Linked DNA regions of Homo sapiens. The protein of the gene in region 2 purifies or fractionates together with the protein of the main gene of each other region. This does not show direct contact. Each region holds a gene or a part of one and is shown on either strand. Other genes may lie near its edges. The genes, in order: FLYWCH2, LRRC41 and NSMCE1.

Region 1 (3,654 bases), on a different chromosome or scaffold from region 2:
GAAAGGGAGAGGGCCTGAAGGTTAAGTTGATCACCAATGGCCTATAGTTCAATCAATCATGCCTATGTAATGAAGCCTCCATAAAAACCCAAAAGGAGAGGGTTCCGAGAGCTTCCAGGAACACATGGAGTCCTTGGACGGGTGTGTGGGAGTTGGGAGTGGGGTGGGAATGGAAAGTGAGCCCCTCCCATACGTGCTGCTGCATTTATATGTGTGTGTGTGTGTATATATATAAATAAAATATATGTATATATGTGACATATATAATATATATTATATACGATATATGACACATATACAACATATATGGTATATATATGACATATATAATATATATTATATGACATATATACATTATATATTATATATATTTAAAATATATATAAATTTTAGTTATTTTTTGAGACAGAATCTGGTTCTGTCGCCAGGCTGGAGTGCAGTGGCGTGATCTCGGATCACTGCAACCTCCACCTCCTGGGTTCAAGTGATCCTCCTGCCTCAGCCTCCCACATAGCTGGGACTACAGGCACACGCCACCATGCTCTCCTAATTTTTATATTTTTAGTAGATACGCGGTTTCACCATGTTGGCCAGGATGGTCTCGATCTGTTGACCTCGTGATCCACCCGCCTCAGCCTCCCAAAGTGCTGGGATTACAGGCATGAGCCACTGTGCCCGACTGCATTTATATTTTCATCTGTCTCCTTTATAATAAAATGGTAAATGTAGATAAATTGTGTTTTTTTTTTGAGATGGAGTCTCGCTCTGTCTCCCAGGCTGGAGTGCAGTGGTGTGATCTTGGCTCACTGCAACTTCTGCCTCCTGGGTTGAAGATATTCTCCTGTCTCAGACTCACAAGTAGCTGGGATTACTGGTGTGCACCACCATGCCCGGCTAATTTTTTGTATTTTTAGTGGAGATGGGGTTTCACCATGTTGGCCAAGCTGGTCTCGAACTCCTGACCTCAGGTGATCCACCCGCCTCAGCCTCCCAAAGTGCTGGGATTACAGGCATGAGCTACCACACCTGGCCTGTAAATAGTTTGTTTTTTTGAGATGAAGTCTCGCTCTTCCCACCCAGGCTGGAGTGCAATGTCGCAATCTCAGCTCACTGCAACCTCCACCTCCCAGGTTCAAGCAATTCTCCTGCCTCAGCCTCCCGAGTAGCTGGGATTACAAGCGCCGGCCACTACTCCCAGCTAATCTTTGTATTTTCAGTTGAGACAGGGTTTCACCATGTTGGCAAGGCTGGTCTCGAACTCCCAACCTCAAGTGATCCACCCGCCTCAGCCTCCCAAAGTGCTGGGATTACAGGCATGAGCCACCGTGCCTGGCATTGTTTCCTTGAGTTCTTTGGGCCACTCTAGGAAATGATTTAACCCAAGGAAGGGGTCATAGCAACCTGAGATTGCAGCTGGCTGGTCAGAAGCATGAGCAAGGCGGGAGGATCACTTAAGCCCAGGAGTTCGAGACCAGCCTGGGCAACATAGCGAGACCTCATCACTATAAAAAATAAACAAATTAAATAAAATAAAAGAGAGAGGCCAGGCGCGGTGGCTCACGCCTATAATCCCAGCACTTTGGGAGGCAAGGCGGGTGGATCACGAGGTCAGGAGATCAAGACCATCCTGGCTAACACGGTGAAACCCCATCTCTACTAAAAATACAAAAAAATTAGACGGGCGTGGTGGCGGGCGCCTGTAGTCCCGGCTACTCCGGAGGCTGAGGCAAGAGAATGGCGTGAACCCGGGAGGCGGAGCTTGCAGTGAGCCGATATCGCGCCACCGCACTCCAGCCTGGGCGATAGGGCGAGACTCCATCTCAAAAAAAAATAAATAAAATAAAAATAAAATAGAGAGAGAGAGAACCCTGCCACTCTGGTCCTCCTGCCTGCGCCTGGCACAGAAGTGATCTGCCCAGAGCCACATCCTTGGTCCTTGACCTGGGACCTGAGTCAGGAAAAAAAGTCCTATTATGTCAACCATGACCTCTATTACTGCTACCCAACAACCTCCCTTCCCAGTGTCCCCATCACTCCACTCTGTCCCTGGGGAGATGGAGGCCTGGTCCAGAGCCAATGGCCTTGGGCAGCAGATGCTTGAAGTCAGAAATGCCAGTTACAAAGAAAACTGATCCTCAGAGCTGAGGTCCTGCCTTGGAAGCCAGTGGTCGGGATTATAACCCAGATAACAAAATAAATATCCATGAGTCCAAGCTGATACAAATAACTGAATACATAAATGTTGGAGAAGGGACAAATCTTCCTTAAGAGGAATTCTAAACAGTATGTGCGGACACTTCCCCCTCCAGGAAATGGAGCTTAAGTCCCCTCCCTTGATTGTTGGCTGGGCTTAGTGCATTTCCAAAGATGACAATCTGGGCTGGGCGAGGTGGCTGACGTTTGTAATTCCAGAACTCTGGGGGGTTGAGGTGGGTGGATTACTTTAGGTCAAGAGGTCAAGATCAGCCTGGCTAACATGGCTAAACTCCGTCTCCAGTAAAAATATAAAAATTAGTCAGGCGTGGCTGGGCGCAGTGGCTCATGCCTGTAATCCCAGCACTTTGGGAGGCTGAGGCGGGTGGATCACAAGGTCAGGAGTTCGAGACAACCTGGCCAACACGGTGAAACCTCGTCTCTACTAAAAATACAAAAAAAAAAAAAAATTGGCCGGGCGTGGTGGCAGGCGCCTGTAATCCCAGCTACTCGGGAGGCTGAGGCAGGAGAATCGCTTGAAATCAGAAGGTGGAGATTGCGGTGAGCCAAGATCGCGCCACTGCACTCCAGCCTGGGCAACAAGAGCAGAACGTTGTCTCAAAAAAAAAAAAAAATTAGTCAGGCATGGTGCTGTGCACCTAGTAATCCCAGCTACTCAGGAGGCAGACACAGAAGAACTGCTTTAACCTGGGAGGCAGAGGTTGCAGTGAGCCAAGATCTCACCACTGCACTCCAGCCTGGGCAACAGAGCGAGACTCCAACTCAAAAAAACCAAAAAACAACAAAAACAAAAAAAAAAAAACAAAAACAAAAAAACACACACACGCACACAAAAATGAATGTGGGATCAGATCCCAGATTACACCTCCGAACACAAAAAGTGCATTAGTGAAAACACTGATGAAATCCAAATAAAGTCTATAGGTTAGTTTTCTTTTTTCTTTTTTTGAGAGACAGGGTCTTGGTATATTGCTTGGAGTGCAGTGATACAACCATGGCTCACTGTAACCTCACACTCATGGGCTCAAAGTGATCCTCCCACCTCAGCTTCCCAAGTAGCTGAGACTACAGACACGCACCACTACGCCTGGCTAATTATCGTATTTTTAATAGAGACACGGTTTCACCATGTCGTCCAGACTGGTCTCGAACTCCAGACCTCAAGAGATTTGCTTGCCTTGGCCTCCCAAAGTTCTTGATTACAGGTGTGAGCCACTGTGCCCAGTTCTGTAGTCTTGTACCAACAATAATTTATTATATGAGATGTTAACATGAGGGGAAGCTGGGGGTGGGGAAGATCTATAGGGACTCTGTACTGCCTCTCGGACTTTTCTATAAAGCTAAAATAATTCCAAAATAAAAAGTTTTTTTTAAAGGTAAGTAGCTAGCTGCATTAATATGACCCAAAACATTAACTATTTTATCACAGAAAACCCAGCA
Region 2 (3,654 bases):
TCTGACCACCTTGGCATCCCAACGTTTTTCTGGGATTGTAGGCATGAGCCATCACACCCGGCCTGATTTGTGCTTTTACTTTTTTTTGTTTATTGGTTTTATTATTTTTGGAGACAGAGTCTCACTCTCACCCAGGCTGGAGTGCAATGGAGCGATCTAGTCTTACTGCAACCTCTGCCTCTTGGGTTCAAGTGATTCTCATGCCTCAGCCTCCCAAGGAGCTTGGATTACAGGTGTGTGCCACCACGCCCGGCTAATTTTTGTATTTTTATTTTGTTTTGTTGTTGTTGTTGTTGTTTTCTGAGTCAGAGTCTCACTATGTCACCGAGGCTGGAGTGCAGTGGTGCCATCTCGGCTCATTTTAACCTCTGCCTCCTGGGTTCAAGCAATTCTGCCTCAGCCTCCCAAGTAGTAATCCCAGAGTAGCTGGGATTACAGGCATGCACTACCATGCCTGATTTTCAGTAGAGACAGGGTTTCACCATATGCACCAGGCTGGTCTCAACTCCTGACCTCAAGTATCTGCCCACCTCAGCCTCCCAAAGTGCTGGGATTACAGGTGTGAGCCACCACACCTGCCTGTTGGTTTTATTCTTTTTTAAATTATTTTTTTCTATTCTTTGGTGTTGAAACTTTTTTGTTGTTTTTGTTTTAAGACAAGTTCTGGCTCTATTGCCCAGGCTGGAGTGCGATGGTGTGATCTCGGCTCAGTGCAACCTCTGTCTCCTGGGCTCCCTCCCACCTCAGCCTCCTGAGTAGCTGGGACTACAGGTGCACAACACCACAACAGGATAATTTTTCTATTTTTTGTAGAGACGGGGTTTCTCCATGTTGCCCAGGTTGGTCTCAAACTCGTAAGCTCAAGCAATCCACCCACCTTGGCCTCCCAAAGTGCTGGGATTACAGGTGTGAGCTACCGCGCCCAGCCCTTTCTTTCTTTTTTTAAGAGACGTGGTTTTGCACTGTCCCCCAGGCTGGAATGTAGTGGCATGATCACAGCCTCCAACTCCTAGGCTCAAGCTATTCCTCTCACTTCAGCCTCTGGAGTAGCTGGGATTATAGATGTCAGTCACTGTACCCGACTCTTGTGCCTTTACTTTTTACAACTAATTCTTTTTTTTTTTTTTTTTTTTGAGTCGGAGTCTTGCTCTGTTGCCCAGGCTGGAGTGCAGTGATGTGATCTTGGCTCACTGCAACCTCTGCCTCCTGGGTTCAAGCAATTCTCCTGCCTCAGCCTCTTGAGTAGCTGGAACTAAAGGCACGTGCCACCACGCCCAGCTAATTTTTGTATTTTCAGTAGAGACAGGGTTTCACCATGTTGGCCAGGCTGGTCTTGAACTCCTGATTTCGTGATCCACCCGCGTTGGCCTCTCAAAGTGCTGGCATTATAGGTGTGAGCCACTGTGCCCGGCCACAATTTATTGTTTATACAAAAGTCATTAGAGTATACTGTAAAGTGAGGCTCTAACTTAACTTTTTCCAAATAGCTAACCAATTGCTAGAGAATAATTTATTGGGTAAATCTTAATTTATTCATTGCTTTTTCTCCAGAGTATCTATTCTATTATACAGATCTTTTTTTATTTGTTAGTTTTTTGAGACAGGGTCTCTCTCCTGTTGCCCAGGCTGGAGTACAGTGGTGCGATCTTGGCTCACTGCAGCCTCGACTTCCCAGGCTCAGGTGATCCTCCTACCTTGGTCTCCCGAGTATCTGGGACTACAGGCATGTGCCACCATGCCCAGCCAGTTCTTTGTATTTTTAGTAGAGACAAAGTCTTGCCATGTTGCCCAGGCTGGCCTTGAGCTCCTGGGTTCAAGTGATCCACCTGCCTCAGCCTCCCAAAGTGCTAAGATTACAGGTGTGAGCCACCGTGCCTGACCTTACAGATCTCTTTATATACCCCAGTACTACACAGTTTGAAATACTATTGCTTTATAAGCATTCTATATTTATCTTGTTCACCATTGTATCCCTGGAACCTAGCATAATGCATGGAACTGAGCAGGCACTGAATAACTGTTTGTGACTTATGAGCTGAAGGCTATTGTCATGCAAAAGTGGGAAGCGGAAAGACACCCTCTGGAATGGACATGCTCCAAGTTAGGACCTCTGCCTAACTGACTGTTGGGCCACCAAGCCTGGGGCCTCTAAATGCTCTGAAATGCTTTGAGCCAAGAAGACAGAAAGCTTTCTCCAAGAGAAAAATATAATCTTTATCACTTGCTGGTCAACTCTAGTGCTTGTGAAATACTGGAACAAAGTGAATCTGATGTTTCCTTAAAGATAGCAAAAAGCAGTTACTGTTTTCTAATATTCTTGAGTCTGCTTCTCTTCCTCATAAGGTCTGTTGTCCTCATTCTGAACGCCAAGGGTTGCAGTCCAGATTTGGAAGTGAATAAGCCGAAGGAGATGGGGTTCAATGTTACTGAACCCAGTGCATCCCCAGAAATTAAATCTCCAATTCCTGACATTAGCTTTTTTTCCACCTGTTATTTGGCCTCATTCACCATAGAAGGCCCAGTTCAAATACTACTTCCTAGGAAAGACTTTCTTATTCTCTTCTCTCTCAACCTTCTTACTATCCTCTATTACACCACTTATCCTATCATATGTGATCTATTTGTAGATTTCCCTATTAAACTGGTAGGTCCTTGCCGGGCGAGGTGGCTCACGCCTGTAATCCCAGCACTTTTGGAGGCCGAGGTGGGTGGATCAACTGAGGTCAGGAGTTCGAGACCAGCCTGACCAACATGGAGAAACCCTGTCTCTATTAAAAATACAAAAAAATTAGCTGGGTGTGGTGGCGCATGCCTGTAATCCCAGCTACTTGGGAGGCTGAGGCAGGAGAATTGCTTGAACCCGGGAGGCAGAGGTTGCAGTGAGCCAAGATTGCGCCATTGCACTCCGGCGTGGACAACAAGGGCAAAACTCCGTCTCAAACAAAACAAAACAAAACAAAACAAAACAAAACTGTTAGGTCTTTAAGATTAGAGGCTGCATCTATTCTTCCAATATCTAGTGTAAGATCTGGTACCTGGTTAAGTTTCAGTAAATGTTTATTGAATTAAATCTACCCCATCACCTAGTTATGGGGCAGCAAAAGAAACTGCTTAAATGAGAGCTCCAGTGATTTATATCTGTATCAGTGAATAATAGAATCTCAGGTCTAAAAGGAGCTCTAAAAGTCATCTTGTGCAACCCCTTTTACAATGCTGAATCCCCTGCAGAACACCCTAGTGTCAAGGAGTTACACAGACTCCATTTGAACTTAGTGATGGGAAGTTTATTACCTCTAGAATTAGCTTGTTTCATAAGCTCAGGGTTTAAGCTTTACGTAAACTTCAGGTTAGCAAAAATGTATCTTCCATTAGCTTCCATCCAGAACAAGTCTATTAATCCCTCCTTCATGTGACAGCCATTCATATATTTCAAGATGGGTCATGTTTCCCAAGTCTTCTCTTTTTCAGGAAAAACATCTCCAGTTGTCCCAATGTGACTCACATAATGTGGCTTTGACTTTCTCCAATCTCCACGGGTAGCCTGACCATTGCAGAGCTAGGCAGGACTGTTGTCCACCTTGTCCTTCAGCCTATACTATATTTACATTAGTTCACACAGCTCAAGGTATAGTCGTTATAAGTGGCTTCAACACA
Region 3 (3,654 bases), on a different chromosome or scaffold from region 2:
TTGTGTGACTTGCTTGTTGCACTTAACATTATCTTTCTGAGAAGTATGCGTGTTGATGTGAGGAGCTCTACTTTGTCTTCATTGCTGATTTGAATTCTATGGGATGATTATATTGTTTTAATGTAGTTCTTCAGTTGGTAGGCATTTATACTGTTGCCAGACTTTTGTTATTACAAGGTGCTTCTGTAAAAACATATCTCCTAGGGCAAATGTGGAAGTTTCTGTAAGGTATATACCTAATAGTAGATTTCGGGGGATATGCAAATTTGCTAGTAATATCAACTGTTATCTGAAATGGTTACAATAATTTATACTCAGCCTGGAGTGGTGGCTCACACCTGTAATCCCAGCACTTTGGGAGGCTGAGGTGGGTGGATCGCTTGAGTCCAGGAGTATGAGACCAGCTGGGGCAACAGGTGAGACCCCATCTCTACAAAAAATACAGAAATTAGCCGGGCATAGTGGTGTGTGCCTGTAGTCATAGCTGCTAGGGGGTTCTGAGGTCAGAGGATCGATTGAGCCCACAAGGTCAAGGCTGCAGTGAGCTATGACTGTGTCACTTCATTCCAGCCTGGGCAACAGAGTGAGACCCTGTCTCAAAAAAAAAAAAAAAAAAAAAAAAGGAAAAGAATTTATACTCTCCCAGCAGCAGATGAAAGTTTCAGCCTCAGCCATTCTTTTAAAATTTTTGCCTGTCTGGTGGTGGCTAAGACATTCCTTCACTGTGGTTTTCATAATCATTTGTCTGATAACATTGAGATTGAGCATCTTTTTTCTGTATTTATTCATCATTTATGCATCCTCTTTTTGTAAAATTTCTGTTGCCCATTTCTCTTTTACAGTTGTGTTTCCCATGCTGATTTGTAGGAATTCCTTATATAGTCTGAATATGAATCTTTTGTATTTTGTAGCTTATGTTTGTTTTAAATGCCCTCCAGTTTGTATCCCCTAACCCCCACCTTTCTGGTATTTTTGGTGAATAGAGGCCCTTAATTTTAACAAAAGTCAAGTTTATCAGTATATTCCTTTATGACCTGTACTTTTTATATCTCTTAAAGAAATCCTTCCCTACCCTTAGGTGATAAATATATTCTCTATATTGCCTAAAAGTCTTACAGTATTTTTCCTTATTATGACCTTATCCCTTCAGAATTGATGTTTGTATATAGTATGAGGTAAGAATCAAATTTTATTCATTTTTTTACATATGGATAACAAGTTTTCCTGGCACCTTTTATTGGAAAGTTTGCTTTCATCCGCCATCAAGTATCCATATATGTATACCTTTCCGTTTCTGAGTTCTCTGTTCTGTTCCATTGATTGGTCTTATTTGTCTATCTCTGTACCATTACCACACTGTACTCGTTACTCTAGCTTTATAAGAAGTGCTTTTTTTGTTTTGGTTTGTTTTTAGACAGGATCTTACTCTGTCATCCTGGCTGGAATGCAGTGGTGCAATCATGACTCACTGTAGCCTCGACATCCCGAGCTGAAGCAGTCCTCCCACCTCAGTATCATGAGTACCTGGGACTACAGGTGCATACCATCATGCCCAGCGATTTTTTTTTTAATTTTTGTTTTTAGTAGAGACAAGGTTTCACCACATTGCCCAGGCTGGTGTTGAACTCTTGGGCTCAAGCAATCTGCCCACGTCAGCCTCCCAAAGTGCTGGGATTACAGGCATGAGCCATCGCGCCCAGCAAATATGAGAAGTCTTTATAGCTGGTAGGACAAGTCCTTCTGCCTTTATTTTCTCCCAGGAATGTCTTTGCTGTTTTGCCTTTGTGTTTTCTATGTAAATTTTTAGAATCATCTTGTCAAATCACACACACACATACACAAAGCCTCTTGGGATGCTGACTGTAATAGCATTGATTCAATTGCATTGGGTCAATTTGGTTTTTAAAGTGATTGCTGCCAACATTTCATTTTTCAGTATGATGTTTGCTGCAGGTTTTTTGTAGACGTCACTTAGTAGATAAAAGATGTTTTCTTCGATTCCAAATTTGTTTTTGGTGTAGGTACATGTTGAATTTTATCAATTGTATATTCTGCATCATTAAGATGATCATATGCTTTTTTAAAAAAACTTAGGTTTGGCAGCACACGTGAAGGTTTATTAGATAGGTAAACTCACGTCATAGGGGTTTGTTGTACAGCTTTTTTAATCAGCCAAGAATTAAGTCCAGTACCCGATAGTTATATTTTCTGCTCTTCTTCCTCCTCCCACCCTCCATCCTCAAATAGACCCCAGTGTCTGTTGTTTCCTTCCTTGTGTTCATAAGTTTTCATCATTTAACTCCCACTTATAAGTGAGAACATGTGGTATTTGGTTTTCTATTCCTGTGTTAGCTTGCAGAGGATAATAGTCTCCAGTTTCATCCATGTTCCTGCAAAAGACATCATCTCATTCTTCTTTATGGCTGCATAGTGTTCCACGGTGTATAGGTACCACATTTTCTTTATCCAGTCTGTCATTGATGGGCATTTAGGTTGATTCCATGTCTTTGCTTCTGTGAATGGGGCTGCAGTGAACATTCCCGTGCATGTGTCTTTATGGTAGAATATTTCTGTTCCTCTGGTATATACCCAGGAATGGGGTTGCTGGGTCAAATGGTAGTTCTGCTTTTAGCTCTTTGAGGAATTGCCACACTGCTTTCTACAGTGGTTTAACTAATTTACACTCCCTCCAACAGTATATAAGTTTCCCTTTTCTCTGCAACCTTGCCAGCATCTGTTATTTTTTGACATTTTGATAATAGCCATTCTGACTGATGTGAGATGGTATCTCATTGTGGTTTTGATTTGCATTTCTCTAATGATCAGTGATACTGAGCTTTTTTTTCATATGCTTGTTGACCACATGTATGTCTTCTTTTTGAAAAATGTTGGTTCATGTCCTTTGCCCAGTTTTTAATGGGGTTGTTTGATTTTCTCTCGTAAATAGTTTGCAAATATTTTCTCCCATTCTGTAGGTTGTCTGTTTACTCTGTTGATAGTTTCTTTTGCTGTGCAGAAGCTCTTAAGTTTAATTAGATCTCATTTGTCAATTTCTGCTTTCATTGTGATTGCTTTTGGTGTCTTTGTCGTGAGATCTTTGCCCGTTCCTGTGTCCAGGATGGTATTGCCTAGGTTGTCTTCCAGGGATTTTATAGTTTTAGGTCTTACATTTAAGTCTTTAATCCATCTTGAATTGATTCCTGTATGTGCTGTAAGGAAGGGGTCCAGCCTCAGTCTTCACATATGGCTAGCCACTTATACTAGCACCATTTATTGAATAGGGAGTCTTTTTCCCATTGCTTCTTTTTGTCATCTTTGTCAAGGATCAGGTGGTCATAGGTGTATGGCCTTAATTTTGGGCTCTCTATTCTGTTCCATTGGTGTATGTGCCTGTTTCTGTACCAGCACCATGCTGTTTAGCCCTGTAGTGTAGTTTGAAGTCGGGTAACGTGATGCCTCCAGCTTTGTTCTTTTTGCTTAGGATTGCTTTCGCTATTCAGGCTCTGTTTTGGTTCCATGTGATTTTTTTTTTTTTTTTTTGAGATGAAGTCTCACTCTGTTGCTCAGGCTGGAGTGCAATGGCGTGATCTTGGCTCACTGCAACCCCCGCCTCCCAGGTTCAAGCGATTCTCCTGCCTCAGCTTCCTGAGTAGC

What was found.
Region 1: the proteins of LRRC41 (region 2) and FLYWCH2 purify together in Homo sapiens (affinity purification with mass spectrometry; one large-scale study listed by BioGRID and IntAct). This does not show direct contact.
Region 3: the proteins of LRRC41 (region 2) and NSMCE1 purify together in Homo sapiens (affinity purification with mass spectrometry; one large-scale study listed by BioGRID and IntAct). This does not show direct contact.

What each region holds. Positions count from the first base shown.
Region 1 is NC_000016.10:2,889,591-2,893,244, reverse strand, and holds part of FLYWCH2 (FLYWCH family member 2), read right to left. Parts: intron 1-3,654.
Region 2 is NC_000001.11:46,293,480-46,297,133, forward strand, and holds part of LRRC41 (leucine-rich repeat-containing protein 41), read right to left. Parts: intron 1-3,654. UniProt on the Homo sapiens protein: Probable substrate recognition component of an ECS (Elongin BC-CUL2/5-SOCS-box protein) E3 ubiquitin ligase complex which mediates the ubiquitination and subsequent proteasomal degradation of target proteins.
Region 3 is NC_000016.10:27,262,130-27,265,783, reverse strand, and holds part of NSMCE1 (non-structural maintenance of chromosomes element 1 homolog), read left to right. Parts: intron 1-3,654. UniProt on the Homo sapiens protein: RING-type zinc finger-containing E3 ubiquitin ligase that assembles with melanoma antigen protein (MAGE) to catalyze the direct transfer of ubiquitin from E2 ubiquitin-conjugating enzyme to a specific substrate.